Homo sapiens: one gene and its partners. The protein of the gene in region 5 interacts with the protein of the main gene of each other region in a biochemical or structural test. Each region holds a gene or a part of one and is shown on either strand. Other genes may lie near its edges. The genes, in order: HNRNPUL1, HNRNPC, TOP2B, ADAR, ERG, HNRNPAB and DDX23.

Region 1 (2,958 bases), on a different chromosome or scaffold from region 5:
CCATGCCTGGCTAATTTTTGTATTTTTAGTAGAGATGGGGTTTTGCCATGTTGGCCAGGCTGGTCTTGAACTCCTGACCTCAGGTGATCCACCCGCCTCGGCCTCCCAAAGTGCTGGGATTACAGGCGTGAGCCACCGCGCCCGCCCTTCTGTCTATGTCTTTCTTATTCACTATTCCAGTTTTCTTCACCTTCTCCCTTCTGGAAGGCCACTCTTCTGGGTGGAGGGGACCAGACTTCAGAAGGTACTGACCTCTTCTTCTTGTTCTCTTTGGGGCACTTCCTTCCTCCTAGCCAACTTCACGTTGCCAGATGTTGGGGACTTCCTGGATGAGGTTCTGTTCATTGAGCTGCAGCGGGAGGAAGCGGACAAGCTAGTGAGGCAGTACAACGAGGAAGGCCGCAAGGCTGGGCCACCCCCTGAAAAGCGCTTTGACAACCGAGGTGGTGGTGGCTTCCGGGGCCGCGGGGGTGGTGGTGGCTTCCAGCGCTATGAAAACCGAGGACCCCCTGGAGGCAACCGTGGCGGCTTCCAGAACCGAGGGGGAGGCAGCGGTGGAGGAGGCAACTACCGAGGAGGTGAGACATCTCACACACAGCACTCTCCACTTTCTGTTCCCAGGTTGGGGCTGGGCTTTGACTGCTTATTCAATCAGCAACTGAAGTTTTCTGAGCTCCAGCTGTGAGTTATACTCTGGTAGAAAACTTGAAACAAGTCAGACACGGAGACCTCAGAAACGCTCCCACTTTCCCACTCCCTGGACGCTGGTTATGAAGCCCTTTGCCCATTTGCATATCACAGTGCACATTCTGTCACATTGCTGTCATTTTTGTGAACCTTCCCCCATCTGACCATGAGCTCCTTGGAAATAGGATCTAGATCAAAATCTATTGGAAATGGGGGCTACATCTTTGGCCAGGTCTGAAGAGGACTAGATGTGACTCGTTCATGGCTGTCACCAGTGCTTAGCTTCCTCTCATTTTTTTTTTTTTTTTTTTTGAGACGGAGTTTTGCTCTTGTTGCCCAGGCTAGAGTGCAATGGTGTAATCTCGGCTCACTGCAACCTCTGCCTCCCGGCATTCAAGCGATTCTCTCGCCTCAGTCTCCTGAGTAGCTGGGATTGTAGGCAAGCACCACCACGCCCGGCTAATTTTGTATTTTTAGTAGAGATGGGGTTTCTCCATGTTGGTCAGGCTGGTCTTGAACTCCTGACCTCACGTGGTCCACCCGCCTTAGCCTCCCAGAGTGCTAGGATTACAGATGTGAGCCACCGCACCCTGCCAGCTTCCTCTCCTTGAGCATCTCCTTCCTGCATATTCAACAGCTATTGAGATGCTGGGACACAGAAACCCAGGACTGCCTTGGTCTCTGCCTCACCATTCTTGCAGTCCAGTGAATGAGACAAACCTGTCATAAGGGCTGGGACAGGGGAGTATGCCCGGGGGTCTAGAGAATCCCAGAGGACATGCTTTGTTGTTCACCTTGAGTTCTTGCTCTGCGCCTGGCCATGCCGGCTCACAGTAGTCACCAAGACAACCCAGTTCCCTGGGGTTGCCATTTGGGAATGATGGCGCCTTTCATCTGGATTTCTCCAACACAGGTTTCAACCGCAGCGGAGGTGGTGGCTATAGCCAGAACCGCTGGGGTAACAACAACCGGGATAACAACAACTCCAACAACAGAGGCAGCTACAACCGGGCTCCCCAGCAACAGCCGCCACCACAGCAGCCTCCGCCACCACAGCCACCACCCCAGCAGCCACCGCCACCACCCAGCTACAGCCCTGCTCGGAACCCCCCAGGGGCCAGCACCTACAATAAGAACAGCAACATCCCTGGCTCAAGCGCCAATACCAGCACCCCCACCGTCAGCAGCTACAGCCCTCCACAGGTGAGAGAATGAGTGTGTGTTTGTATGTAGTGATCGCACGTGTGCTTTTGAACCTGAGCAAGTTAGGTGGAGGCGGATCTGGGGAAATCAACACATGCCCCAGCTACTGGTCTTCACTCTAACCTCTAGCCTGCCCTTCTTTCTCCCTGGCCGTGATCTTGACTCAGATGGACCCTACACATTCCCAGATCCCCTCCAAACCCAGGAGTAAATGTAGACCTTCCCAGAACCTGCTCTTCTCCCACCACCCTCAAGGGGATGGGCTGTAAGCACTGATCCCTCCAGCAAGTACATTATTCTTGGCTAGTGTCACTAACCTCACTAAATCCCCAAGAAAGCACTTGACTGGAGTCACCCCTTGCCCAGGCTGGCTGACCTCTTTGTCTTTTGGACATAATAACCAGGGCACTAAGGTTGCTGAGGACTTGCCCTCTGCACAGAGAGCTTCAATCCTGAGCAGCTCCAGGCTCAGTTCCCATTCTTGGAAAGCCAGTGCCCTGGCTCTGGTATGCACAGGCTCCTGTAAACCAGAGAGGTTTTCAGTTATCGCACAGCCATTTCCCAAGCACTTTCCTCATGCCGGGCCTGGAATCAGCTGCCAGGAGACCAATGGATGGTTCCCAGGCCCAGCTAACTAGAATATTTCTTAGAACAAGAGTTGGGCAGGCACAGATCCAAACCCCCAGCCCCACAACATCCTGTTTCTGTGAGCTTGGACAAATAGCTTCCCGTCTCTGGGCCTCATTTTCCTCATAAAGGTGTTAGTAGAAGTCCCTTCCAAGGTTTGTTGTGAGGAATGGGTGGCACTATAGCTCTGGGACTAGGCAGACCTGGGGTCAAGTCCTTTTTCCTTGGCCCAGAAATTTCATCTTGAGCCTCAGTTTCTTTCTCTTTAAAATGGGGCTAGTGGGACCTACCCCTAGGTTCTATATGGAGATTATATGATGTAATGATCCAACCTGTACTTGGGAAGCACTTAGTCAATTGCCACTACTGTTTCTCAGCAGATCTTCCAGTAACAACTACCACCACCTGTTGAGTACCCAGTGGTTTATACACACAAGCTTA
Region 2 (3,500 bases), on a different chromosome or scaffold from region 5:
GTACACTGGAAGGTCAGGCATTTTGTTTAAAGAATTGATTCTAAGGCCGGGTGTGGCTGCTCATGCCTGTAATCCCAGCACTTTGGGAGGCTGAGGCGGGTGGATCACGAGGTCAGGAGTTTGAGACCAGCCTGGCCAACATGGTGAAACCCCCATCTCTACTGAAAATAAAATTAGCTTGGCGTGCTGGCGCTCGCCTGTAGTCCCAGCTACTCGGGAGGCTGAGGCAGGAGAATCGCTTGAACCTGGGAGGTGGAGGTTGCAGTGAGCCATCGCACCACTGCACTCCAGCCTGGGCGACAGAGTGAGACCCCATCTCAAAAAAATGATAATAATTGATTCTAAACTGGGGAATAGAGAGATTCCCAATTTAAAATCTTCACAGTGGTTCTCAAACGTTAGCCAACACCAGAATCAATAGGGCTAGTTAAAACAGATTGCTATGATCTCTACCACAAGGGTTTCTAATTAAGTAAGTCTGGGGTGGGCCCTGAGAGTTTGCACTTCTAGTAAGTTCCAGGTGATGATGCTCATGCATCACTCATTCTGAGAGGTGCCCCTTTAGAAGAAGGGATCCAAACCTCAGGCAGGTTTTGACAAAGAATAACCTAGAGATACTTTTTTTCTAAAACTATCTCTGAGCTTTAGGTAAGGATACTTTTTTTCTTTGAGAGCCTCACACTGTCACCCAGATTAGAGTGCAGTAGTGTCATCTCAGCTCACTGCACCCTCTGCCTCCCGGGCTCAAGGGGTGCCCTCAGCCTGCTGAGTAGTGCTGCTAATTTTTTGTATTTTTGGTAGAGGCAGGGTTTCGCCATGTTGCCAGGCTGGCCTTGAATTCCTGAGCTCAGGTGATCCACCCGCCCCAAGCCTCCCAGAGTGCTGGGATTACAGGTGTGAGCCACGCCGCCTGGCCTCAAGGAATATTCTTGATTGAAAATGGTGCTAAAGTTGGTCTTTTTATGAGTGGTAGCTCTTCAGTTTAACATAAATAACATCTTGGGAGATACTGAGCTTTTTGATATTGAAAGATAGAATTGGTTTCTTTTCACATTTTTCTTTATTTTTAAGCTTATGTCTTGTGGCACCTGTACAAAGGACTTGGTTGTGGTTGAGCTATAAAGTTATGTATCTTGAAAATTGATTACCAGGTTTGGGCTGTGGCTCCAAATAAGAAAATGAAATGTTTCACCATAACTGTATTTCATAAACAGGAAAAGAACATTCAGATGTATATTTCTTACAATTCTTCACAAACTTTTTCCGCAATTTGTACATTCATACAGTTTTCACACATCAAATGTAAAAATTAACTGTCATTCCTACACTGTTCTTTTTAAAAATGTATGGTACTTGTTGCTGCTGTAGTCATTCATGTATAGTTGGCTCAAGGAACACTTCTAAAAGCTCAATTAAAAATTTTTTTTTTGAGACAGGGTCTCTCTCTGGCCTGGCTGAAGTGCAGTGGCGTGATCAGAGCTCACTGCAGCCTCGAACTCCTGGGCTCAAGTGATCCTCGCTCCTCAGACTGCTAAGTAGCTGGGATTTCAGGCTACCACACCCTGCTAATGTTTTTTGTTTTTAATAAAGTCTCGTCATGTTTCCCAGGCTGGTCTCAAACTACTGAGCTCAAGCCGTGCTCTACCCTGGCCTCCCAAAGTGTTGGGATTACAGGTGTGAGCCACCACACTTGGCCTTAAAATATTTTAATTTCCTCAAATTTACAAAGGAGAATAAGACCTCATGGCTAAATTGAACAGTGAGTGCAGCTAGTTCATTGTTTGCACAAGGAACTACAGTCTAATTGCAGTTCCTATTTTAGCTGATGAAACAACCAGTTTGTCATGGAAATTATTTTAGTGTGGTATTATGTACCAGATTTTTAGAATCCATAACTTGAAATTAGCTTTACACGCTACATAGTAAATAGTGGACTACAGAAACAAAAGTATTAACATAAGGACCTTAATTTTTTTCACCTATTTTATGACCTTAAATATTCAGTATTTTTTTAATTCCATCTGTATTTTCGTTTTGTCAGTGAGTGGAATAATGTGCTCCTTATTTAAAACATCTTTTCCCCTAACAGTAGAACCTATTAGGTCTTGTGGTTTGATCACTCACTGGTTTTGAGAATAGATGAGTCATCTCTAGTATAGATCTTCATGGTAGGCCATTCACCTTCAGTCTATTACTCATAGCAAAAACTCCACGGACTTTTTTAAGTTTAAAACCCATGAATCTGCTTAGGTTTTATAATCTCAGTATTTGACATTTGCTCACTATTTCATCTCTATTTGTTGGCCCGGTTTTTCTGTATTTTCTTTGCCCAAACTGCTCATTATCAAGATGAACATTTGGGATATACTCTTTTTGAGACCCTCAAGGGCATATTGACATGAATTTAGTTAATTTTAGTCATCTATTGATGTTGAAGAATTGTGAAGACAGTCACTGGTAGAGGTGATTCTATGGAGGCTATCCCATCCCAGTGGAATGTTAATGCTTTACCAAAATGTGTTAGCTGCAGTAGACAGATGTTTCTGTCTTGGGGGTTTAGGGCACAACATTTCTGAGGAACTCTGACTCAATCTGTCCCTTCTCCTTTCACAGGGCAGCAAGGCGAACCCCATCCCTACTCACTGGAGCTCAGCTTTGATTTTTAACCTCCCTTCCCCACCCTTCCAGAACACACACATTCCATTCCAAAACTGATTTTATAAAGACATTTTAAACATAATGATGCAACTTGGTGTGCACTACAGCAAATGTACAGGTGTTTTTTTTTTAATTGTTTCCAAAACCGGGACCTGGATTTAAGATGTAATTTTTAAAATTTCTATTTCTATTTTTTCTGCAGCAGTTGGGTTAGAGGAGGAGGAGCCTTTTAGCCTCTCATAAACTGACCTCTCTACTTCCTCGTGTATTTTTAAGATTGATTGATGATGTGGAAAGGGCTTTGCTTGTCTGCTACTGAAAACTTTATCCTTGCGGTTTTTGTGGAAACTGCTTTTGGAAAGAGAAAAGAAATGAACTTTACTGACTTGACATTTTTGCACCTCCCGTTTTTCTAATCTGGGCTATTTTTATTTTTGTTTTTTTACAGTGAGATTTTTTTGATCTTCAGCTACAGTAAGTTATTCCAATTTTTTTTTAACATTTTTCCTGACTTTCCGCTGATTTCCTTTTTATTGTTGTTACTAGTTACTATTACTTATTATTATTATATTAATACTTATGATGGTGATGATGATGATGATAATGACACTGATGATTTTTAACCGGATTAAAATCGAGTTTTTCTGAATGTTTCTAAGAATTTCTCCGGCCTCCTGATTGACTTTGGAGTTTTGCATCTTGGGAGAGAAAGCGAAGGCATTAGTATTTTTAAGTGGTTTGATCACGTAAACCTTTTCTCTCCCAACCCCACCCTTGCCCTCATCCCCTTCCCCACACTGAAAAGAATTTTACTGGCTGTTAAGTCTATGACCTTATTTTTC
Region 3 (3,500 bases), on a different chromosome or scaffold from region 5:
AGAAATAAAAATAGAATTAGCCCCTGATTTCTTTCTTCTGGGTGAGGAGTTGTATGCCATGTGTTGCTGATATTAACTACTGTTGGGATGCATGCCAGCATGTGTTGTTAATGTCATTGCATGAAAATTTGCCTTTCAATATCTGAAACTACAAAGCCAAGTGGTTTTAGGACTGGCATTAACTTATTTTAATAATTCATTTGGTTTGTGTTTGATTTGTAGGAGTATCTCAACCAGAATTTTTTATAATTAAAAAAAGTGAAAAATATAAACATGGCAAAGCTATTTTGATTTAAAATGTATAGCAGTTACAAAGGCTTCTCTTAAGGCAGCAGGGTTTCTTGAATTAATTCTTTGTAGAGCTTTGATTAGTAGATAGTAATAGTCTGGTTCATTCTGTCAGTCTTGTATCATAAGTGATTGTAACAAAGACATTTGTGGAAATACTAGAATACAGTTATATGACTTAATCTTTTTCCCAACAATATTCTAACTTGGTAGATTAAAAAAAATTTTTAATGGAAAATGTTAAGCATCTCAAAAAGTGGTAACCAGAGTAGTATAACAAGCTTCCCTCTATTTAGCCTTAAGCTTCAATAATTATCAACCTGCCGGGTGCGGTGGCTCACGCCTGTAATCCCAGAACTTTGGGAGGCCAAGGCAGGCGGATCACCTGAGGTCAGGAGTTCATGACCAGCCTGACCAACATGGAGAAACCCCATCTCTACTAAAAATACAAAATTAGCTGGGGTGGTGGCGCATGCTTGTAATCCCAGCTACTCGGGAGGCTGAGGCAGGAGAATCGCTTGAACCTTGGAGGCGGAGGTTGCGGTGAGCCGAGATCACGCCATTGCACTCCAGCCTGGGCATCAAGAGTGAAACTCCGTCTCAAAAAAAAAAAAAAAAAAATCAACCTAAGACCACCCACTTTATCCCTTCTCATTCTTTTGAAGCAGAGCAAATCCTAGAATTTTATCACTTTCTCTGTAAATATTTCAGTATTTATCTCTAACAGTAAAGTCTCTTTTTGAAAAACTGTATAACCACAAATAACATTGTAGTTTTCTCAAAAGTCACATTTTTTGAAATATATAACATATTTTTGGAGTGTGAATATCTCTAATTAAACATGACTATGTATTTAAATATTGTTTAAAGATTTATTTTAAGAACCTTGCTTTAGTGGTTTACTGTTGCGAGTCTAAATTGCTGAGCCAGACTTTCATAAACTATGTGCCCTTTCCAATGAAATTTATTTATTATAGTCTCCATAGTTAGATTTATCTCTTCACTGTCCCCTACACAAGTTAGGCTTGTTTTTGTCACTTTGTCTTTACATATTTGCCTTCCATCTGGAATTACTTTTTCACTTCTCTTTACTAGTCTAAATCTTAACTGTTCTTCAGGGCTAGCTCAGAGCCTTGTCACATTATTATTTTCCAGTTGATACTCATCTTTTTCTTTCATTGAATGTTTGTTACTCTCATGAATCATAAAACAGAAGTCTTTATTTTTTATGTAACTTTCATGCATGATAACTTTGCCTTAATATTACAAATTTCTGAAGTTAGAGAGCATGTATTTTCCTTGTTTATGTCCTTCAGAGTGTTAAACAAAGAACTGGATACGTAATCCAGTCTCAGTTATTTAAAAATTGGATAATTGACATGCTGACTTCCTAAAAAGTCTTCTGTCATTAGTAGGACAAGAGTTTAAGTAGCAGTGTTTTTTAGATACATTCTCAAGTACATGATATAGCAGTATTTAGGCACGTTTTTAATAAACTTAATTTTTCTGAATCGAAGTATGTTCACCTGTAATCCCAGGTTTGTTGGTTAGGTGGTGGCAACAATTGCATTTTACTGAGTACACTTTAAAAAATAAACTTCTTGAATTTTTAAAAGTATTAACACGTATAGAACCCCATTTTAACGAAAAGTTGAAGTAGCTATAGTTATTCCTATTTGCAGAGAAGGAAACGGGTTTAGAGATTAGGTAACAAATTCTTAGGCACATGGTTAAGGCACAGGTGGAATTTAAACCAGACTCAGTGTTCTTAACATTTACACAGCCTTCAACTTTAAAAACATTGAAAGACAAAACAACTCATCTTTTATACTCTGATAAGACAGAATAAGGAGACATCTGGGATATACCTGTCTTTTTCTACTAACCTTTTACTTTCATACAAAAAGCTAAGGAGTATATTTCCTTTTCAGAATATGTGTACTTAGTATAGCATAATGCTAAGAGTATGGGCTGTGAAATCAGATCATCTAGTTTCATAATTCACCTTTGTCAAGTACTAGTTTTGTTAGCTTTGGGAAAACACTTATCCCAACCTTAGTTATCTCATCTGTACAAAGGGAATTATAACAGTGTCTATTTCATGGAGATACTATATAAGAATTAATTAAGATTATCGTAGTGCTTGGCACATAGTAGCTCCCAGATGGGTTCACACATACATTCTCCCTTCTTTTTTAATCCAGTGATAAGTATTTTCATTCCCTTTATTATAGAGAAAGCCTATTTTCATAGCAGAAGTCTAAGCATTTGTTACTGTCTTAAGTATCTCTTATCTCTTCCTTGCCCCTTTGTTTAGAAGGGTATTTCTGAAGGAGCATAGACAGGGGACAGTTTGTTGCTTTTTGCTTCATTAATGGTGGGTAGATAACATGGCCTCTCCATTTACATATAGGTGAAATATGGTTAGAATGAACATCATGGGATGGCAGCCTTGAGGGAGAAAAGAGAGAGGAGACATTATAAAAGGTTGGTGTTAAGTCTGAGGGGATTGTACAGAAGAAGGTAAAAGAAGGGGCTCGTTGCTAGGCTGCCAGCCCCCACTTCCACTCTTGTTGGCCTGGTGATGGTGAGCTTTCTGTGTTGATTATGTGAATGAGTGGCTCAGTTCTTTTTTAGTACCAACTGGCAAACCATCTCCTTTACCCTGTTTGTCAGCAATTCATTCTCCCTCAGAAAAACAAACTGGGTGCTTCTGCCAAATTGCTATATTTCAGGTGACAATTCTGTCCATTGAAGAATCTTTTGTTTTGTTTTGCAGAATGATCTTGGTGTATAGTCGTTCTGAAAAATAGGAAGTTTTACTGGAATGTTTTCCATTTTCTTCTGAAGACTGAGAAATGTTCTTGAAAAAGATCAAATCTTGGATTAGTATTAAATCTGTTTTTTTATTAGGCATTAGCAATATTGCAAAAGTGCCATAAGATAGGTTAATATTTAAAATATATAGTCTATATAGTTATTTTGGTATTTTTGTTATAATTTTAAATTTTCCCTAAATGCTTTGTTTAATTTGGCAGCTGACTTGAAATTCAGAAAAAGTCAATGATGTTATCATCATATTTATAAATGAAAAAGAATATAATTAAAACAACTTTTAGATATGTGTAGGAAATTTAATATGGTGATTATTTTACACTTTTATTGTCTTCATGATAATGAAAATGTAGCCTTGATTTTTTAGATTCCAATTT
Region 4 (3,500 bases), on a different chromosome or scaffold from region 5:
AATGAGGGGCTGGAACTGGAAGAAAACACATTTAAGACACAGTACAGAGGTGGCAGACAAGGTGGGACTTGGCAACTACCTGATGAGATCCAGGAGATGAGGCCAGGAGGCGGGCAGCAAAGATGACGCAGGTTTCTAGCCTTAATAGGCTAGGAGGAGAGTGATGCCATTAGCAATAAGAACTACAGGAGAAGGAGCTGAGTTTGAGGGAACTATTAATTTGGTTCAGAATATGTGCTGTTTGAGTTATGGCAGGATATTTAAGTGGACAGACTGTCGACATAGTTGGAAATTCAGATCTTAAGCTCCCACACAAGGTAGTGGCTGGACATAGTAGATTTGAGTGCTCTTGCTTCAGAGGGCTAGTTTAGGTTGGGGCAGTGATTAAAGCAACCTAGGAAATAAATTATAAAGGAAGAAGAGGTCCTTAAAACCTTGGAGACTGATTATATAAAGGGTGGATCCGTTAATACAGTAGCTATTAAAAAATTATAAGGGGTGGGAAAAAGGGACAAAGAAGAAAAAAGAGGTGAAAGACCTTTGCTGTGTCACCAAACCCTGGGAGGAGAATTTTTTAAAAGAAGAGTACTCAATCCACAGTGAACTAAGGCATGTTTGTTAAACACAATTGACCACCACACAGCGAAGACCCAAATGAGGTTCAAGAGAAGGAATTTTTATGGACCCTGTTAGCACAAGTCAAGGTCCTTCTCCAGTACCACTGGGAAGCTTTGGAGAAGAAAAGGGGGACAGTGGGCCTTGGGTGGAGAAGGGAACTGACCATGAGATCCAGGTGGGGTGAGGAGGTGTGTGAAGTCAGAGTGGGGAAGAATCAGGGTGGCTTACTGGCAGCTTCACCGGGGTCATGCGAGGAGCAGGTTCCACCAGAGTAAGGAGTGAAGTTGTAGAAACACAGGGAAGTCACCATCAGAAAAGAGCAGGAGTCAAGAAACTATGGCCCACAGGTACAAACTACCTGTTTTTATAAATAAAGCTTCATGGTAAATGAATTGTAAATAAAGTTTTGCATATTGTGTGAGGCTGTTTTTGTGCTACAGTGGCAGAGCTGTCTGGCCCTTTATAGAAAAAGTTTATCAGCCACTGGAAAAGAGTTGCAGGATTTGAGGTCTTGGTGTGATGGCCTAGGTTAGAGTCATAGTGAGATTGAAGGAGTAGCTAGACAAGCCAATTGTGTGGCAGAAAGGTAGGGATGGAGATCACTGGGTTAAGGATCCTTGTAGCCAGGACACCATGAGAGTGATTGACAAGAATGCTGAAATCCCCTAAGTGTGTCAGGATGTGGAAGAGTAGAAGGCTAGAGTTATGGAAGAAAGGGTCCCACCTCTACCTGTGCAGCCTCCAGGAGAGTCTGAGGAGGGGGCGGTGAGTGTGAGTAAATGTTGTCAGAATCCCTCCTCCCAGTCTACAAGCCCCAGGGAAAGGAAGCAAGGTGTTTACTGACACCCCCAGGCTTATAAGTACTTCCTGGCTCCATCACCCTCCAGTGAACAGCCCTGGGGAGAAGACAGTACTGGTTTGCAGGTGGGTGGGTGGGGAAAGGGGTCACAGGTGCTTGGTGTTCTGGTAAATGTGCATATGAGAACATGGGGTTGCTTGTGCCCTGTCCGTCAGGGTTCAGAAGAACGTGCAGTGGAAGCAGCTATGGGGAAGTAGCTAGGGAAGGTAGGACTGGTCTGAGGTGGTGAGGAGCAGATGCTGCCAGCTCCACACATCCAGGAGAGCCTGGGTGGTTTGGGCAAAAGTCTCTGGCATCCCTTCTGAGCCTGGGTACCACACTGAAGAGTGAGGACAGTGTGCCATTTTTATCAGGAAACCCTCCAGCTCCCTGAAGACCAAATTCTGATCCTCCTGGGATGGCAGTGAAGAGCCACAGAGATGACTCTGAGGTCCCGTGGCCTTTTCCCACCTGGAGATTGTTTTCGTTACTGCGCTGTTACAGCCTTGGAGGACTGGGGTTCAGTTTCATCCAATCACATTTCTTCTTTTGTCATAGTCATCTAAACGATAGATCTTAGAGACAGGTGGGCAAGGGGTGCACTGGTGAGCCTGACTTAAGGAGAGGTCATCTCGTCCCTTCCCTAGTCCCATCTCCCTTGGTTATTGTTATTTCATGTGATTGTTCTGGTTATTTCAGGTTATTCTGTTTTTGTTTTCAAAACAATAACATATATTTGTTGTTCTGATTTTAAAGGGGTAATTGTTTTGGTAACTAGAAAATTACCTTCTCAACTCCCTTAAATTCTGTCAAAGGGAAAAGTAAGTTAGGTTGCTGGAGAGGCTATGCTGAGGCCTCAGAACCTCTGTATTCCTGGAAGTTCTGCGTGCTTTGCCTCCTGCTCCCCTCTCTGTGTTCCTGTTGGCAGGCCCCTAGGCAGGATTTAGGAGGTAGGCAAGTCACCCTAGCCAAGTCATAAGCCCATGGCTCAATTGCCTTCTCAGCCCTTCAAGGGCTGTTCCACAGGCAGCAAAGGGAGGGGCCTCCACAGGTTCACCACTGCAGCCCTAATTCATTTTCTTTTTCCACTGTCTTATTCTGCAGGGGTATTCCCTCAGCGGATACTACACCCATCCATTTCAAGGCTATGAGCACAGACAGCTCAGGTACCAGCAGCCTGGGCCAGGATCTTCCCCCAGTAGTTTCCTGCTTAAGCAAATAGAATTTCTCAAGGGGCAGCTCCCAGAAGCACCGGTGATTGGAAAGCAGACACCGTCACTGCCACCTTCCCTCCCAGGACTCCGGCCAAGGTTTCCAGTACTACTTGCCTCCAGTACCAGAGGCAGGCAAGTGGACATCAGGGGTGTCCCCAGGGGCGTGCATCTCAGAAGTCAGGGGCTCCAGAGAGGGTTCCAGCATCCTTCACCACGTGGCAGGAGTCTGCCACAGAGAGGTGTTGATTGCCTTTCCTCACATTTCCAGGAACTGAGTATCTACCAAGATCAGGAACAAAGGATCTTAAAGTTCCTGGAAGAGCTTGGGGAAGGGAAGGCCACCACAGCACATGATCTGTCTGGGAAACTTGGGACTCCGAAGAAAGAAATCAATCGAGTTTTATACTCCCTGGCAAAGAAGGGCAAGCTACAGAAAGAGGCAGGAACACCCCCTTTGTGGAAAATCGCGGTCTCCACTCAGGCTTGGAACCAGCACAGCGGAGTGGTAAGACCAGACGGTCATAGCCAAGGAGCCCCAAACTCAGACCCGAGTTTGGAACCGGAAGACAGAAACTCCACATCTGTCTCAGAAGATCTTCTTGAGCCTTTTATTGCAGTCTCAGCTCAGGCTTGGAACCAGCACAGCGGAGTGGTAAGACCAGACAGTCATAGCCAAGGATCCCCAAACTCAGACCCAGGTTTGGAACCTGAAGACAGCAACTCCACATCTGCCTTGGAAGATCCTCTTGAGTTTTTAGACATGGCCGAGATCAAGGAGAAAATCTGCGACTATCTCTTCAATGTGTCTGACTCCTCTGCCCTGAATTTGG
Region 5 (3,500 bases):
CATCCTGTAGATGGCTAATTGATGATGCCCTATTGTTTAGTGTGTGTGCACTGTGGTTTTATTTGCTTCGGTTCAAAGGGCCTAAACAATGCATTCGTTGGAATTTAGTAACTGCTGTAAAATCAGCACAGAGAACAATCTGTGAGCTGATATTTTTTGTACCCAAATCTGGTAATCTCTGCTTGACTAAAGAAAGCAAAATCTAAAATGACCTTTCAACTAACCATAGAAAAGGCCTTCCATTGAATCTCAAAGAGACTTATTTTTCTACCAAATATAAAAACATTCGAATTATGCATCATTTTCCATGATTCAAAGGAGACAGAGGTGCCTACGGGGCATGTTACTCATAGACAAGTCTATTCTAGTCTAATCACGTCCCCTTAAAAATCACCGAGTAGATGACACCGAGGATGAGAACGAGGTACTGTAATCATTACTTTAGAAACTTTATATTTTTACCTGTTTCAAGACAGAATTCTCCTAGAAAATCTGGAGCAACAAGCTTATTCCCCTTGGAGAGGAGATAACGAATAATGGACCACGCATTCGGAGAGAGGAAGTTTCCACTGGGAGCCCTTCCTGCATCAGTGCGTCTCTGGTTGGGCTGGCTATCTGTGTAGGAAGTGAACGCAGGAAGTATCTGTCTACAAACCCTTTATCCTCAAGGTAATTGCTGTAGCAGCATTTTACTGTTTACCAAAGCAGTAAACATGTGATCTAAAAAAAGATGTTTTCCATCTCCAGAAGAACAAGGCTTTAAAAAATGTATACATGTGCTTATTTTGTAACCAGCTTATCAAAATTGGTTACAATAGGCTTGGGCTTTCAACAGTGAGTCCATGAAAACAGCTCTTGGGATGGACAGAGGTACCCTCACAGGGATGCACAAGAAACAAAGAAGTGGCTTCCTTCACTAGAATGCTATCCTAGCAACACACATTTTATGTCTTTTCTCCTAAGACCGGCTTAACCGAGTTCATACTGTTTGGCTTACAAAGAAGGTAAAGTCAACAAAACTATCTATGTTAATTCAGGTTGGTAGAATGAGTAATTCACAAAGTCCAATAACTCATAAAAGTCACTTACATTTGGCCTTGGACAATATTCTTATTTTTACGTGACTATAAATATGCTTCCAGTTTAGGAGTTCACACAAGACAAAGTGAAAAGTTAGAACTCAAAAGGAGATGTGTAGTGGCTGCTTTTGCTGACTTTTGCCTGGCGTAGGCCAAGCCTCCTGGTCCGTCTTTTCCTTTGTTTCTTTATTCCAGATCAAGCTTGCAAACCTGCACCGTCCCAGATTTCCTGGGGTAAGAGAAGTGATTGTCTAGGAGAGGCAGCTTGGAATGAATAAAAACAGGTCCAGGAAGGATCCCTCAGCATTTAAGAGGCTCAGGAGGGGTCCCCCTCATCATCCTTGTTGTCTTTTGTGTTTTTCAAGCCGCCTTCCAGGTGGATAGCGATTGCAATGAGAGAGAAAGAGTATGGAAGGAGAATAAGAAGAATAGGGAGACACAGAAGTTAACAACGCCCTGAATGTCTCCTTCCAGGACCTGCTGTGCAGTGTCCGGTGAACTCACCAGCAAGCATTTCCCAGCCCTGTTTTAAGCAATCTCCAATGCAGATCAGGTGCTCGTGAATAATTGGGAGCTCACTGTGTCTGTCAGAGTTCTTACTTTATAATGAAGAGATAAAAACATGTTCATCACAGGAAAATGGACAAATTGGCTAATTGAAAACAAAATTCAATTCACAAACTGTTGTAGAAATTGAAAAAAAAAAGGTAGGGGGAAATGCTTTTCATAGATTCCCTGATTTTAGTCTTAGAAGAAAAATGTATTTGGCTTGAATGAATAGTAAAATTAACTAACTTTGATTGAGGAGCTTATGTGTGCCATATACAGTTCTGGGCTCTTGCGACTTGGTGAATCTCACTATAACCCTGTGAAGTAGGAACTATCACTCTACCCATTTCACCGATGGAAAAGCCTATCTCCTGTGAGGCTGTGGCTTGCCAAAGGTGAAATGGCCAGGAAGTAGAACAGCCAGGGAGTGAACCCCAAAAGCCAGGTGGGAGCCCATTTCCCCTGCCCACTGCACGAGACCCCTCCCCGGTTTGAAGATCCGATAGGGGCACTGCTGTTAGCTCCCCCTGCGTCCTGGCAGCAGCACAGTCAGCAGATGGTCACTGTGGAGAAGGCGGAGCTGACCACCTCCATTTTCCTATAAGGGAGCTAGGGCCAGGAGAGGTGCGTTCACCTGGGGAAGTCCTGCAGCATCAAACTAAAGCTCCGGGCCACCCTCTCCCAGATGGGCCTCTTTCCACTTCCCCTTGCCAGCAGCTATATCTATGCCTCCCATCCGTTGCACGGAAGATAAGGCCAATCCCTTTTCCACAGAGGCTATTTTAAGGATGCCACGAAGAAATACAGAGTACCAAGTGCCTCCCTGGGCCAAAGATAAAAGTGGGCTGTGCTCTCTGGATTCAACCTTCATGTTTTTGATGCTCTCTGGAAGGTCAGGGAAGGCACACATATCGTATGGATCCAAAGAGGACTACGCAATGCAAAACCACATACTTTTTTTTTCTTTTTAACTTGGAGCAATGTCTTGGGACATCTACCTCAAATTGAGACACAAACTAATTGTGTTGACAGATTCTAAAGTGTTGTTTCAACAGTTTCTTCTTCCTCAAAGGTGAGCATCATGTGCACACTGTCAAAATTAAAAAAAAAAAAAAAAAGACCCAATAAAACCCGATGAAACCCAAAGAGCATGGAGATGAGAAACTCACTGCTGGCTGACGATCTGAATGAATGGCCTTGGGGGGAATGTGAATGTGGAGGTAGCAGAAGGGTCCTGTCTTCAGTGCTGATTCTGTATCAATACTTGGTAAATTTAAAAAACAAAAAAACCAGCAAGGGAGATTTTAAATCATCAAGGCAGAAGGATTTAAAAAGTGGAATGTGTTAAATGCAAGAGTGCGGGATCTTTGCATAAAGTTATTATATTTTCAAAAATTCGACAAGCATTGTTTTTACCAAACGTGTTTAAAGTAACAGCCCTGAGGTTAATGTTATGATTGGATTCTGATGTGGCACTTTAAAAATAAATCATTTTGCTTGGCCTTAGCATTTCTTTTCAAAATGTCTCTGTACTTATCTGTGTACAACAGCAGATTACCGTTCTTCCCAGAGTTTAATTCCATGAACACCCTGCTGAAAGACTTGTTAAGGCCTTATGGAAAACTCTGACCTGCGTGTTCATTATTGACGCCCAAGACGAGTGCAAGGAAGTTGATACTTGGGATGAGGAAATTTAAATCAGCAGCTGATCTGGAATCTGGAAGCACTGCCCCTTGGATCTCGCCAAATATGGAAAGAATTCTTGTCACTGAGCAAATATAGAATTCAGTGCTAGAGTTTTACCTCTTGAATTTTCTAGAACTTTGTTTTGATTAGCCACCTAGAGTATAAGAATTGCTGCCTATGGGATTT
Region 6 (4,131 bases), on a different chromosome or scaffold from region 5:
TGAGTCCAGGGGTATGAAGCCTGCAGTTTAAGGTCTCAGAAGATCCTAGAACTTCTGCAACTCACTGATTCTCCTCTGTGGTGAAGTTTTTCTTATTCCAGAGCCTTTCTACCTCCTTCTACAACCAAGTCTTTGTCCACTTCCATCCACTTTGAGCACTTTTTTTTTTTTTTTTTTTTTTTTGCTTTGAGACAGAGTCTTGCTTTGTTGTCCAGGCTGGGGTGCGGTAACACAATCATGGCTCACTGCAACCTTGACCTCATGGGCGGACCGGATCCTCCCATCTCAGCCTCTCGAGTAGCTGGGACCACAGGCATGTACCACCATGCCTGGCTCATATGTTTTTTTAAAGCCTGGTCTCACCATGTTGCCTGGGCTCAAGCCATCCTCTGCCTTGGCCTTGTAAAGTGTTGGGATTACAGGCATGAACTGCCTCACTTGGTCTTCTGGGCACCTCTTTAAGTTAACCCTAAACCCAGGCAAAAATCCTTCCAAAGATCTCCCAGGGTCCTGGCCAGCTTAAATCCAGGGTCAGTTGTGCTTTCAAATGAGTGGATTCATGTGCAGGGAGGTGTAGCTCTTCCCCTCCTGAACTCTGGTCAGGGAAAGGGTAGTTCAGGCTTCAAGTTGGCAGTTGGGAGTTGAGGGTGCGGCCTGCAGTGGCAGGGTGTGGCAGGTTCTGTTTCTGAGCAGGAGTTGGCAGCCAGATAAGGTGGGACAGGTGGAACTCCTGGAAGTCTCTATCCTGGCTGGGAGTTTGGAAAGAGTGGATTAGGATAGTCTTAAATTTTCTATAAAATGACAGTCTTTGAGGCAGTTAGGGGAAGCAGTGGTTATTACTCCAGTGGACAGTGATAGAGGCCTTTTTCTCTATGTGCCATAATGGGAAATGGGTGGGAAGAGCCTCTAAGGCAGAGTTTAAGTGAAACTACTGGTAGTGAGTCTTAGGAGTAAGTATATTTAGTTGGTTATATTCAGTATTTTTAATTTAGTAGGATAGAATATATCAGATTGCATTATTTTAATTTGCCAATTAAAAGTATGACTGGGACACTGTAAAATGTACTATTTTTAATGGGTGTGCATGTCAGGATTTTCTTTAGAAATACACTGGTCTGGTCTAATTTATTTAAGCAGGAGCACTTTAAAGTATCCCACCCTACCCCATTCCACCCCCAGTGGACAGAAAGGAAATTGACTGACTTGAGGGGATGCAGACATCTGGGTTATTCCAACAGACCAGTGGTTAGGAGGAGGGGGTGGGTAGCATTATGGCCTCGGGCAGGCCCCCCCACCCTGAGCCTCTGAAAGCTGACTTTATCTGTAAGAGGGAGGTCAGGCTCGCCTTCTCAATAGCGTGTATTTGGATGAGATGAGTTTCTTCTGTAAAGAGAAAAAGATGTTAAAACCTCATTGTCTAAGGCCCCTCATCTGAGAAGTCTTGTCTGACCCTCTAGCCCAGCAGGACCAAGGTGTGGTGCCTGGTCCCAGCCTGTCCTCTGCTCCCCTGGGCTGCAGTTGGCCCAGTTGCCTGCCTCCATTAGATACGGAGTTGCTCTGGGGCTGAGATGCCCATCTCAAGTGCATTCTGTCGGAAGGGTTCTCTGCTGGAAGGCCTTTGGTTTTAGTTGGGATTCCATGAGCTTTAGCCCAAAGGTGGCCTCCCATACTAGCATATTTTGTTTCTCAGCAAATGGACCTGATCCACCATTTGATGTTTGTCGCAGTGAAGGTGTTTGGGCAGTCACTGCCCTGAGTTTGTCCTACTGGCCTGACCACTGTCCTCTTGACTTTTAGTGTGAGATCAAGGTGGCCCAGCCCAAAGAAGTCTATCAGCAGCAGCAGTATGGCTCTGGGGGCCGTGGAAACCGCAACCGAGGGAACCGAGGCAGCGGAGGTGGTGGTGGAGGTGGAGGTGAGTGGAACGTGGATGAAGATAGGTCCTGTTTCCCTGCCTACATGGAGCCTTCCAAGCCTGTCTTGGGGCTCCCTCTGGTGCTGTGCAGCAGGGGTGGGCAGATTGTGTGAGGTTGGGGACGAACAGGAATAGGAACGGCTCTGGGTCAGGGCTGTATGCTTGAGGCTGTTGCCTGCTGCTGCCCCTTGGAATGGCTTGGGTGCCCAGGGCAGAGAGAGCATTTGTGTTACACTCTGGGGGAGGGGATGTGATGGGTGTCTTGGCTTTGTGGATGTCCTGAGTCTGGTACACCTGTGAGCAGGTAGGCAGAAGGGTGGGTAGGGCAGAGCTGTGCCAGGCATTTATCCCCTTCCATCCCAGGCCCCTCTGACTCCAAAGCCTGAACTGCATCTTTTTAAAGGCTAAGCTGCCAAGGAGAGTGGGAGTGATCAGAGAGTGACTGAGTGAGTGAGCTGCCTTGTTTGCCCCAAGTAAAGTTAGCATCCTGGTCTCTGATCCTCTGCTTGGGTCTCTCAGATGCAGGGTTGGGCCCAGGGCCCTTATACACCAGAACAGCAGCCCCTTGGCTTCTGCCTGAGTTGCCACAGTAACCCTGCCACCCCAAAGGGCAGGATTTCCTCCATCCTAGCTCCTGCGTATGCTAAATGGTCCACGGGCCCCTGTGCCCTGCTCCCCCCACAGGTCAGAGTCAGAGTTGGAATCAGGGCTACGGCAACTACTGGAACCAGGGCTACGGCTACCAGCAGGGCTACGGGCCTGGCTATGGCGGCTACGACTACTCGCCCTATGGCTATTACGGCTACGGCCCCGGCTACGACTACAGTAAGTAGGAGAGAGGGAGGCCCCATCCGCTCACCCCTCGTCCCCAGGGGAGGCAGGACAGTGTAGGAGCCACTGGCAGCAGGGGCTTTGGAGTCAGACAGGCCTGGCTCAGCCATGGGAGCTACTTGATTTTGAGCCTTAGACTTCGGGGTCTTAATAACATGAGGAAGGCAGTCTCTGCTGTCACGGCTGGTGAGGGTCCTGGGAAGATGCATATCAAGCGCGTGGCACAGGGCAAATGCTTGTAAATAGTAGCTGCTATGGTTGTTCTCGTCCCTAGGTCAGGGTAGTACAAACTACGGCAAGAGCCAGCGACGTGGTGGCCATCAGAATAACTACAAGCCATACTGAGGCGGCAGCAGGAGCGACCAACTGATCGCACACATGCTTTGTTTGGATATGGAGTGAACACAATTATGTACCAAATTTAACTTGGCAAACTTTCTATTGCCTGTCCCATGTGCATCTTATTTAAAATTTCCCCCATGGAAATCACTCTCCTGTTGACTATTTCCAGAGCTCTAGGTGTTTAGGCAGCGTGTGGTGTCTGAGAGGCCATAGCGCCATCATGGGCTGATTTTTATTACCAGGTCCCCCAGAAGCAGGTGGGAGGCTCTGCTTCCTGCTGCCGCTCTGCAGCCTGGACCTGTGGACCCTGGTTGTAAAGAGTAAATTGTATCTTAGGAAACCAGTGTCACCTTTTTTTCACCTTTTAATTTTATATTATTTGCGTCATACATTTCCTGTAACGGAAGTGTTAATTTTACTGTACTTTTTGGTACCTTTTGGGAATCTAATGTATTGTAAGGTATTTTACACGTGTCCTGATTTTGCCACAACCTGGATATTGAAGCTATCCAAGCTTTTGAAATAAAATTTAAAAACCCCCAAGCCTGGGTGAGTGTGGGATATGCTGTGTGAGACCTCTTGCTCAGGGTCGAGGGAGGCGGGGGGGGGGTGCCAGGTGCCCTGGACTTGGGGCTTTCTCCTGCAGCAGGCTCTTCCAGCTGCAGGCCCAGTTGTGGGGGTATCCTTTAAGGACTGCCCTGCCTAGGGCTGAGCCCCCCTTCAAAGAAAGGAATGAGAGGCCTATGGGGAGTGAGGATGGGGCAGTGATGAGGGCTTACATCCCCAGCAGGCATGTCCCCTCCTGGGACACCTTGGAACACCAACCTTCTTGGCTGATGAATGAAAAAATGGGATTCTTTACACACTAGGGCAGTGCCAGGGCCGTCTGAATTGGGGCACAATAGTGCTCCTCCTGGCTGGTGAAGAAAAGCCTGCTCTGGCAGGGGATGTTTATTGGCTGGATTGGAGCCCAACTCCAGGTCTGGTATTTAGGGCATAAGACTAGGTGGTTACAAGAGGCAAGGGTGGGTTGGGGTTCCACG
Region 7 (3,500 bases), on a different chromosome or scaffold from region 5:
GGAGGGAGGTGGGGGGGGTTAGCTCCCCACCCGGCCAGCCGCCCCGTCCAGGAGGGAGGTGGGGGGGTCATCCCCCCACCCGGCCAGCCGCCCATCCGGGAGGGAGGTGGGGGGGTCAGCCCCCGGCCCGGCCAGCCGCCCTGTCCGGGAGGTGAGGGGCGCCTCTGCCCGGCCGCCCCTACTGGGAAGTGAGGAGCCTCTCTGCCCAGTCAGCCGCCCCGTCCGGGAAGGAGGTGGGGGAGGTCAGCCCCCCGCCCGGCCAGCCGCCCCATCCGGGAGGGAGGTAGGGGGGTCAGCCCCCCGCCCGGCCAGCCACCCCGTCCGGGAGGAAGGTGGGGGGGTCAGCCCCCCGCCCGGCCAGCCGCCCCGTCCGGGAGGGAGGTGGGGGGGTCAGCCCCCCGCCCGGCCAGCCGCCCCGTCCAGGAGGTGAGGGGCGCCTCTGCCCGGCCGCCCCTACTGGGAAGTGAGGAGCCCCTCTGCCCGGCCAGCCGCCCCGTCCGGGAGGGAGGTGGGGGGGTCAGCCCCCCGCCCGGCCAGCCGCCCCGTCCAGGAGGTGAGGGGCGCCTCTGCCCGGCCGCCCCTACTGGGAAGTGAGGAGCCCCTCTGCCCGCCCACCACCCCGTCTGGGAGGTGTACTCAACAGCTCATTGAGAACGGACCATGATGACAGTGGCGGTTTTGTGGAATAGAAAGGCGGGAAAGGTGGGGAAAAGATTGAGAAATCGGATGGTTGCCGTGTCTGTGTAGAAAGAGGTAGACATGGGAGACTTTTCATTTTGTTCTGTACTAAGAAAAATTCTTCTGCCTTGGGATCCTGTTGATCTGTGACCTTACCCCCAACCCTGTGCTCTCTGAAACATGTGCTGTGTCCACTCAGGGTTGAATGGATTAAGGGTGGTGCAAGATGTGCTTTGTTAAACAGATGCTTGAAGGCAGCATGCTCGTTAAGAGTCATCACCACTCCCTAATCTCAAGTACCCAGGGACACAAACACTGCGGAAGGCCGCAGGGTCCTCTGCCTAGGAAAACCAGAGACCTTTGTTCACTTGTTTATCTGCTGACCTTCCCTCCACTATTGTCCTGTGACCCTGCCAAATCCCCCTCTGCAAGAAACACCCAAGAATGATCAATTAAAAAAAAAAAAACCCAAAAAAAACAAAATCTGGTGGCAGATGCCTGTAGTCCAGCTACTCAGGAGGCTGAGGTGGGTGGATCACCTAAGCCTGGGGGAGTCAAGGCTGCAGTAAGTTGTGATCACACCACTGCACTCCAGCCTGGGCAAAAGAGACCCTGCCTCAAAAAAATAAATAAAAATAAATAAGAAAGAGAGCTCTGTAATAACTACCAACAGAATCTGTTAAGAGAAATCTACTTTCTTTCTTTCTTTTTTTTTTTTTTTTTTTGAGACAGAGTCTTGCTCTGTCGCCCAGGCTGGAGTGCAGTGGCGTGATCTCGACTCACTGCAGGCTCCGCCTCCCGGGTTCACGCCATTCTCCTACCTCAGCCTCCTGAGTAGCTGGGACTACAGGCACCCGCCACCACGCCCGGCTAATTTTTTGTATATTTAGTAGAGACGGGGTTTCACCATGTTAGCCAGGATGGTCTCGATCTCCTGACTTCGTGATCCACCAGCCTCAGCCTCCCAAAGTGCTGGGATTACAGGCGTGAGCCACCACGCCTGGCGAGAAATCTACTTTCATAAGAAGCTGAGCAAACTCAGGTGCAGAGAAGAAATGGGAGCATTCCCCTAAAGCCCCCTCTCATTCCTTCATGTACCTGGATCGTTTACGGTCCTTGTCCCGTCTGTGCCCATCCTTGTCTCGATCTCGGTCCTTCTTATTCCGATCCCGCTCCTTATCTCGTTCTCGTTCTTTGTGCCGTCGTTCTCTGGAAGACCGCAAATTTAAGAGTTCACTTGGTATTTCCAAAGTATCTTGCTTCACTGCAGCCCTGAGAAAGTTCCTATACTCTCGTCCCAAAGTAATGTTTTACAAATTAGAGAATGTATCTCTCACGGAAATAACGAGGGAATTCTAAGAAGCTTTTATAGATCAGAGATGTACTGTTAAATATTAACGGCAATGACAGGTCACGGACTATGTGAACAGATGAACCTTCCTTTTTTATTTTTTTGAGATGGAGTCTCACTCTCACGCCCAGGCTGGAGTGCAGTGGTGTGATCTCGGCTCACTGCAGCCTCTGCCTCCCGAGTTCAAGGAATTGTCATGCCTCAGCCTCCCGAGTAGCTGGGATTACAGATGTGCACCACCATGCCTGGCTAATTTTTGTATTTTTAGTAGAGACGGGGTTTTGCCATGTTGGCCAGGCTGCTCTCAAACTCCTCACCTCAAGTAATCCACCTACCTCGGCCTCCCAAAGTGCTGGGATTATAGGTATGAGCCACCGCGCCCGGCCACAGATGAACCTTCCTTGATAACCCGGACCTTCACCTTACTAGTTCCCTCTCAACTTTTTTTTTTTTTATTTTTAGTAGAGATCAGGTATCACTGTGTTAGCCAGGATGGTCTCGATCTCCTGACCTCGTGATCCACCTGCCTCGGCCTCCCAAAGTGCTGGGATTACAGGCGTGAACCAACCGCGCCCGGCCCCCTCTCAACTTTTAAGAGTTGGGTCACTGAGGAAAACTGAAAACACCTGCAGGTCCAACTGGGCTAGGAGTAGATTAATGTACAAAAAGTAGATGCCTAGCCGGGCGTGGTGGCTCACGCCCGTAATCCCAGCACTTTGGGAAGCTGAGGTGGGTGGATCACCTGAGGTCGGAAGATTGAGATCAGCCTGACCAACGTGGAGAAACCCCGTCTCTACTAAAAGTACAAAATTAGCCAGGTGTGGTGGCACATGCCTGTAATCCCAGCTATTCGGGAGGCTGAGGCAGGAGAATTGCTTGAACCTGGGAGGCAGAGGTTGCAGTGAGCCGAGATCGTGCCATTGCACTCCAGCCTGGGAAACAAGAGTGAAACTCCATCTTTTAAAAAAAAAAAAAAAAAGGCCAGGCGCGGTGGCTCACGCCTATAATCTCAGCACTTGGGGAGGCTGAAGCAGGCAGATCACGTCAGGAGATCGAGACCATCCTGGCTAACACGGTGAAACCTCATCTCTACTAAAAATACAAAAACATTAGCCGGGCATGGTGTCGGGCGCCTGTAGTCCCAGCTACGCACTCAGGAGGCAGAGGCAGGAGAATGGCGTGAACCTGCGAGGCGGAGCTTGCAGTGAGCTGAGATCGCACCACTGCACTCCAGTCTGGGTAACAAACAGAGCGAGACTCTGTCTCAAAAAATAAAAATAAAAAGTAGATGCCTAATACTGGAGGCATCAGAAGAACCAAGAAGGAAGAAATCTGAAACGTACTCTCCCTTCCCATGTAATAACATACAAAGTTACTTTACCTTTCTGCAGATTTGGAACGGGAACGAGAGCGAGAACGGCTGCCTCCTCGACGTCTATCCCTTGAACGATGCCGCTTTCTATCTTTAGAT

The links.
Region 1: the proteins of ERG (region 5) and HNRNPUL1 form a complex in vitro, tested with the Homo sapiens proteins (one large-scale study listed by BioGRID).
Region 2: the proteins of ERG (region 5) and HNRNPC form a complex in vitro, tested with the Homo sapiens proteins (one large-scale study listed by BioGRID).
Region 3: the proteins of ERG (region 5) and TOP2B form a complex in vitro, tested with the Homo sapiens proteins (one large-scale study listed by BioGRID).
Region 4: the proteins of ERG (region 5) and ADAR form a complex in vitro, tested with the Homo sapiens proteins (one large-scale study listed by BioGRID).
Region 6: the proteins of ERG (region 5) and HNRNPAB form a complex in vitro, tested with the Homo sapiens proteins (one large-scale study listed by BioGRID).
Region 7: the proteins of ERG (region 5) and DDX23 form a complex in vitro, tested with the Homo sapiens proteins (one large-scale study listed by BioGRID).

Annotation. Positions count from the first base shown.
Region 1 is NC_000019.10:41,302,372-41,305,329, forward strand, and holds part of HNRNPUL1 (heterogeneous nuclear ribonucleoprotein U-like protein 1), read left to right. Parts: intron 1-293; coding exon 294-578; intron 579-1,600; coding exon 1,601-1,890; intron 1,891-2,958.
Region 2 is NC_000014.9:21,262,943-21,266,442, reverse strand, and holds part of HNRNPC (heterogeneous nuclear ribonucleoproteins C1/C2), read left to right. Parts: exon of another isoform or gene 1-50; intron 51-894; exon of another isoform or gene 895-3,106; 5' UTR 3,107-3,132; exon of another isoform or gene 3,133-3,500. UniProt on the Homo sapiens protein: Binds pre-mRNA and nucleates the assembly of 40S hnRNP particles. Interacts with poly-U tracts in the 3'-UTR or 5'-UTR of mRNA and modulates the stability and the level of translation of bound mRNA molecules. Single HNRNPC tetramers bind 230-240 nucleotides.
Region 3 is NC_000003.12:25,658,408-25,661,907, reverse strand, and holds part of TOP2B (DNA topoisomerase 2-beta), read left to right. Parts: intron 1-3,500. UniProt on the Homo sapiens protein: Key decatenating enzyme that alters DNA topology by binding to two double-stranded DNA molecules, generating a double-stranded break in one of the strands, passing the intact strand through the broken strand, and religating the broken strand.
Region 4 is NC_000001.11:154,601,687-154,605,186, reverse strand, and holds part of ADAR (double-stranded RNA-specific adenosine deaminase), read left to right. Parts: intron 1-2,560; coding exon 2,561-3,500. UniProt on the Homo sapiens protein: Catalyzes the hydrolytic deamination of adenosine to inosine in double-stranded RNA (dsRNA) referred to as A-to-I RNA editing.
Region 5 is NC_000021.9:38,488,478-38,491,977, forward strand, and holds part of ERG (transcriptional regulator ERG), read right to left. Parts: intron 1-3,500. UniProt on the Homo sapiens protein: Transcriptional regulator. May participate in transcriptional regulation through the recruitment of SETDB1 histone methyltransferase and subsequent modification of local chromatin structure.
Region 6 is NC_000005.10:178,207,533-178,211,663, forward strand, and holds the end of HNRNPAB (heterogeneous nuclear ribonucleoprotein A/B), read left to right. Parts: exon of another isoform or gene 1-749; intron 750-938; exon of another isoform or gene 939-1,383; intron 1,384-1,797; coding exon 1,798-1,915; intron 1,916-2,599; coding exon 2,600-2,740; intron 2,741-3,020; coding exon 3,021-3,091; 3' UTR 3,092-3,631; downstream 3,632-4,131. UniProt on the Homo sapiens protein: Binds single-stranded RNA. Has a high affinity for G-rich and U-rich regions of hnRNA. Also binds to APOB mRNA transcripts around the RNA editing site.
Region 7 is NC_000012.12:48,842,164-48,845,663, forward strand, and holds part of DDX23 (probable ATP-dependent RNA helicase DDX23), read right to left. Parts: coding exon 3,411-3,500; intron 1,888-3,410; coding exon 1,777-1,887; intron 1-1,776. UniProt on the Homo sapiens protein: Involved in pre-mRNA splicing and its phosphorylated form (by SRPK2) is required for spliceosomal B complex formation.